Regions from separate parts of the Homo sapiens genome. Here region 2 is linked to region 1. A link means that fine-mapping ties the variant in region 1 to the expression of a gene that starts in the linked region. Tissue or cell type: monocytes after LPS. Region 1 holds a variant in brackets; the other region holds the start of a gene. All regions are shown on one strand. Distances are between the middles of the regions.

Region 1 (2,685 bases):
GATCTCAAAGTTCTAGGAAATCAGATATAGTACTTGTAGAGTAATAAATAATAAAAATAAAAACAATATATTTTAACATATAAAATTTTTAAGAAATGATAAAACATAAAGCTAAAACTCCATTTTGAAATAAAATTATCTTGAGAGAATACAGAATTTCTAAAAGTTCTATATATGAATAATTCATGAACATCTTGAATGTACCCTGCTCTTCTAACCTAGGAATTCCACTACTATGTCCCCGGAGTTGCAATTACCTTCCACAGTGAACCACAACAGCAACAAGGTCGTACATTCTGTCTGGATTGGTGGCATCACCTGAAGTGTTAAACAGACGAAGTTCTAAAGGAAAAACTACCCGGTAAGAGAGTTTTGTATATCGATGAAGTTGATCCATATATTTAAATCTCTTCAGGTGTAGAGCTAGAATCATGGGCAGTTTTTTAACTTTCATCCTATTAAAAATAAAAATGAAAACAAAATTTCATAAAAGATATCCACCATGTCCTTGAATTATCAAACTTTACGATATCCAATGAACAGATAGACAATGGTCAGTTTTAATAGCCCAGCAATGCCCAGTTTTGCACATTTCTATCAATTATTTTTATACTGACAAAACAACATTCTGAACATCTTAATATGACCCCACCCTACCCATCATTGTCACACCACATAATTTGACACAGCACTCAATATGGCTCCAAAACAGATGGAATGGCGTTAGTCCTTGGTTAAGGAATCTGTATTTTTCAAACACACGTCTCTTATAATAAGGCTAAATGCACGGGGTGCTCAAGAGTGGTAGAGGGAAGGCCAGGCGCGGTGGCTCACGCCTGTAATCCCAACACTTTGGGAGGCCGAGGCAGGTGGATCACCTGAGGTCATGAGTTCAAGACCAGCCTGGCTAACATGGTGAAACCCTGTCTCTACTAAAAATACAAAAAATAGCCGGGCATAGTGGCAGGCGCCCATAGTCCCAGCTACTCGGGAAGCTGGGGCAGGAGAATCGCTTGAACCCAGGAGGCGGAGGTTGCAGTGAGCTGAGATCACGCCACTGCACTCCAGCCTGGGTGACAGAGCAAGGCTCCGTCT[C/CA]AAAAAAAAAAAAAAAAAAGAGTGGTAGAGGGAAAACAAGTTTCTTGAAACTGACAATTCCTTTGGACTTGGGTAGACTGAAATCTATTTTTTCTATCAATCTATATGATGCAGGTACAGACTGACAATAGGAGACTAAAACAATAAAAGCACTAAAGACCAATCAAGGTGCTTGTCAGAGACAAGAAATAACTCCATATTAAGAAAAATGACAATGTATATCCTAGAAAGGGAGTAAAATAACCTGGAAACTTAGGAGTTAAGTTTTTAACTGTGAAACACAGGCTGTTCTTCATGTTCTAAACAATCTTTATTATGCCTTTAAATGCCATTTCTCCCTGAGAGTGCCTTTGTACTCCTACTTCACCTAAAAATCTATTCTTCTTTTAATGGCTCAGCTCAAATGTCACACCCTCTGGCACAAATACACCTGCTCTCTTCAATCCTCCATCAGCACCTTACAGGTTCACTTTATATATGTCAAGCTTATTACATGGTAACAATTTTAGGTGATTATGGTTCTTTTCTTCTAGGCCCTGAACTCTTGGCAGCTAGAAAGCATTCCCTTCATTTTTATTTCCCCACTATCTAGCAACATGCCTGACATATGATAGATGCCAAATGCTGCAGAACTGAATTTTAAATGGGTCTGGTGAAGCAAAATACTCCTCACAATTTAAAGAAGTGATATATGGTAAGCCACTGCCTCTAATAAGTGAAAAAAAAAATCATTTTATAACATTATACTAAATCTGCATTCTACACTTCTTAAATATGGTGGATAGCTTATTATTCCTAAATTACTTACTAGTGAATGAACTTGGCCTTTTGGAAACATTAGCCAAAGTAAAGGTAAACACCTAGTCACTCCTAGAAAGCAATCCACCAATATAAATTAGGAGCCTTTATGGCCTTTGTCTCAGTAATCCTATTTCTGGAAATACAATTAAATGTATAATCTCAAAAACATCCCTTATGAGAATAATCTCCTATTAGAGTTCTTTTACATTGTAAAAAATCCCAACTATTCAGCAACAGGAAATGTGGAAATAAATTAGAATTCAAACATAACCGAGTGTTGTACAACTTAAATAAAACAATGCTGATGAAAGTTTCTAGGTGACATAAGAAAATACTTAAGAAGTCAGGATATAAAATTATACATAAAATATAATTCAACTATGAAACATCAGACCTTTTATTAAACCCACATAGAGTTACTGAAAAGAAATCTTTACAAAACAACAAGGTATCCTTTGAGAATTTCCAATGGATGGTAGATGCAAAAGAAGAATTTTCTGAGCATAAAATGAGTGTCAGTGCACTATTAATAAATGGCAGTCAGGTAAGATTAGGAGGAGGAAAGAGAATGAACATGGCCCGATGGTTAGGGAAAATGTGCTTTTAGAAATTACACAAGGGGAGGAGTCCAAATGCAGAAAAGAGAAAATATCTCAATAATAGCAGATACAATATGTTTAATAAGATAACACATGAAGAATATGAATCCTATTTGCCAAAGATCCTCCCAGAGGAGAAGTGCTGGCTACCACAAAGAAACCAACTACCCATGGAATTGTCAAGCAAAAA
Region 2 (2,685 bases), 95 kb after region 1:
ATGGAAAATTTCTTGGGGATCTCCTATATGAAATCAGTTGCATAAATAGGGCCAGTGAGGCATGAAACACAAGATTTCAGAAGTCTCTAATAACAACCACTAGGCCCACGTTGCAAAGAACAACTTTTTTCGGTGATGACTCATAAATTATGATCCCTACATATAAGCTCATGAGGAACTAATGAAACGAATTTGTCTCATCATGTGGAAAACTGTGGTCCTTCTGGCCACGCACAAAACACCAAGTTTTAAACGCGCCCACGTTTTGCTTAATTCGGGACTTCCAGCGGGCATTAGCACTTTTCCCTTACAGTCTATTTAAACGCCCTAGGAAAACAAATACCATCGCCTTGGCAGGCGGTCCCCGCACAGACAGACCTAGCTCCAGCCACATACAGATGTGTCTGGTGGGCTGAAGTAAACAAATGACAGGAAAGCTAATGCTGCTTTTCAAGATTAACGTGCATTCCCAGAGACAAGACTGCCACCTGGACACACGGCTGGAAACGGGAGAGCTCGTGCCTCTCAGAGGAGAAAATGGAGAGAATTTCAACAGTACTTATTTAAAGTTTCCACCTTCACACACGCCCCTTTCCCCCAGCGCGGGGTCGGGGACTCGGCCCAGCCAGCGGCGCGAGGAAATCTGCACTTGACTTCCGTCCTCTCCCAGGCGGGAATGAGCGCTGCCCGCCCCGGCCGAGACCCTTCCTTCCTGCCCGCCGACCCCCACCCCTCCCGGGGACCCCTCCCGCTCGGCGCGCGACCAGAAGGAAATGGAGCCCGCGCGGCTCCGCGCCCCCTCCCCGACGACCCCGGCCCGGGGCCGCGCTCTGGCTCGCGCGCGCCCACCCCTCACCCCGGCACAGGCCGGGCGCGCCTCGGCCCTCGTCCCCGCGTCCCGAGCGGACCCCAGCAGTTCAGCCGGGGACTCCCGGAGGCCGGTGCCCGCCCGACGCCGCGTCTGGCACGGTCGCCCACTCACCGCTACCCTCGCGCCGCCCTGGCCCACCAGGCGGCGCCCCCTCCCCAGCCGCCTGGGCCGCTCACCCCCGCGCTCCCCGCCTGCGCGCCGTCCAACCGCCCCCGCCCGGGCCGCCCGGGCCGCCCAGCCCGCCCGCCCGCCCCGGCGCTAGGCCCCGCGAGCGGCCACTGGGAGAGGCGGGTCCAGCGCCGCCCGCCCGCCCGAGAGGTCCCGGCAGCCCCGGCCGCCCGCTCGCCGCCACCTACCATGGTACAGATGGAGGCGAATTTGGAGACTGTCATTAGGATTTCCATCCGGCCAGCGCCATCTTCCACCCAATCACAGCGGCGGCGGCGGGCGGGGGAGGAGGGGAGCCGGGCCGCCCGCTCGCACCGCAGCCCGCGGGCGGACCCCGAGCCGCCGCGGACCCAACCACCGAGCCCGCTGGGCCGCCGCTGCCGTCGTCGCCGCCGGCGCTCAGGCACTCCCGGCCTCGGGCCCCAGCCCCCGCCTGCCGGCCGCCGGCCCGCCCCCGGCTCCGCCCCGGCGCAGGGCGCAGCCGCTGCCTCCGGGCCCGCGCCTGCACGCGAAGCCGCCCTCCGCCCACCCCGCCCAGCGCACAGGGGAGCGGGCTCCGCCGAGGCCCTAATGCCCGGCCTGCCAGGCAGCGGCGCGGCCAGGCGGCGCAGCCCCGCCCACCCCTCGGCAACCCCTCCGCGGCCCTTGTGCGCGAGCCGGGGAACTCCGGTCCGTCCCCACCCCGCGCGCGGCAGAGGGCAGGACCGAAGGCGGGCGCCACCTCCTGCCCGCGTCCCTGCGGTCCTAGAGCCGGGGACCCAGAGACCCCCGCGTAGGAAGGGGTGCGGCGGGGAGGCGCGGGGGTGGCGGCGGCGATCTGGGAGAACCCTGGAGGGGACCAGCTGCGACACCCACCGCGGGCGAGGGGACGGCGAGCCCCCGCTGCCTAAACAGAAAACGGAGGCGATGATCTGGGTAACTACGGGCGGAGTGGGAGGAAACCTGCTCTGCACAGTTAAGATAACCCGGGTATGCGTCCCAAGCACTTGGTTTGTTTCTTTTTACGTATATTGGATGAATCACCGGAGTCAAACACAACTTAGAAAAAGACAAAATAATTAAACAAAAATGAAGAGGCAAAGAACAAATTACACATGTTTAACTCTTTGAATTAAGAAGAAAGATAAGTAATGGGGGAAGGAGAGGAGCGAAACCTGTTGGCCTGTTGGCGATAAATTTATAATAGGCTTCTAAATATCTGCACATTGAGCTGCAAAATAGGGAGGATCTCAAGCCAGCAGTGATGATGATATTACCAGAGACAGGAAGCCCGCAAGCAAGAAAAATGCCCTGTGAGAAATCCTTAGGCAGTGCTGGCTACTGGCATGGGTAGTTCCTCTTTCTCCTTTTATAAAATTCATATTTGCACCCTGTTCTTCATGCCTGGCAGCTCAGCTTTATTTTTTCCTATTTGAGAAAGTAGTTCAAGTGAGTAGAATAACTTCATAAATTATTATGTTAGAAAGCTTGTGATATTTTCTGATTGAACTCGTGATGGGGTACTTTTCTGGGTTCCCCTAATTCAGTGGGGTTGAGGATCTGAATTCAGGCAGAGCTGTAAAATCAGAAATGCCTCACCTCAAGGGTTCAAAGCACTCAAAAACAAAAAGCATTCAAACAAAATTTAAGTGAAAAATAGACTTCTG

Which allele goes with the higher level. Alleles are on the strand shown, and positions count from the first base shown. SD is a standard deviation of normalised expression in the study named.
As copies of CA replace C in region 1, the expression in monocytes after LPS of the gene that starts at base 1,447 in region 2 goes up (moderate effect, 0.63 SD a copy in Kim-Hellmuth 2017).

The links. PIP is the estimated chance that this variant, and not a neighbour inherited with it, causes the effect.
Region 2: USP12 starts here. The variant in region 1 is fine-mapped to the expression of USP12 in monocytes after LPS (Kim-Hellmuth 2017, PIP 0.95).

The regions. Positions count from the first base shown.
Region 1 is chr13:27,074,934-27,077,618 of GRCh38, forward strand. USP12 (ubiquitin specific peptidase 12) reads right to left here. Exons shown (of 9, transcript NM_182488.4): 7 at 258-455. It also overlaps the pseudogene RBBP8P2. Among named protein-coding and RNA genes, the nearest start is that of USP12-AS1, 49 kb to the right of the region's middle. The variant C/CA (reference allele first, on the strand shown) is at 1,096.
Region 2 is chr13:27,170,365-27,173,049 of GRCh38, forward strand. It overlaps USP12 (ubiquitin specific peptidase 12), which reads right to left and starts at 1,447. Exons shown (of 9, transcript NM_182488.4): 1 at 1,228-1,447. The coding sequence starts at 1,275. USP12-DT (USP12 divergent transcript) reads left to right here and starts at 1,895. Exons shown (of 2, transcript NR_046548.1): 1 at 1,895-2,008. RefSeq lists enhancers at 424-533, 2,034-2,223 and silencers at 774-823, 854-923, 994-1,083, 1,144-1,193, 1,334-1,973.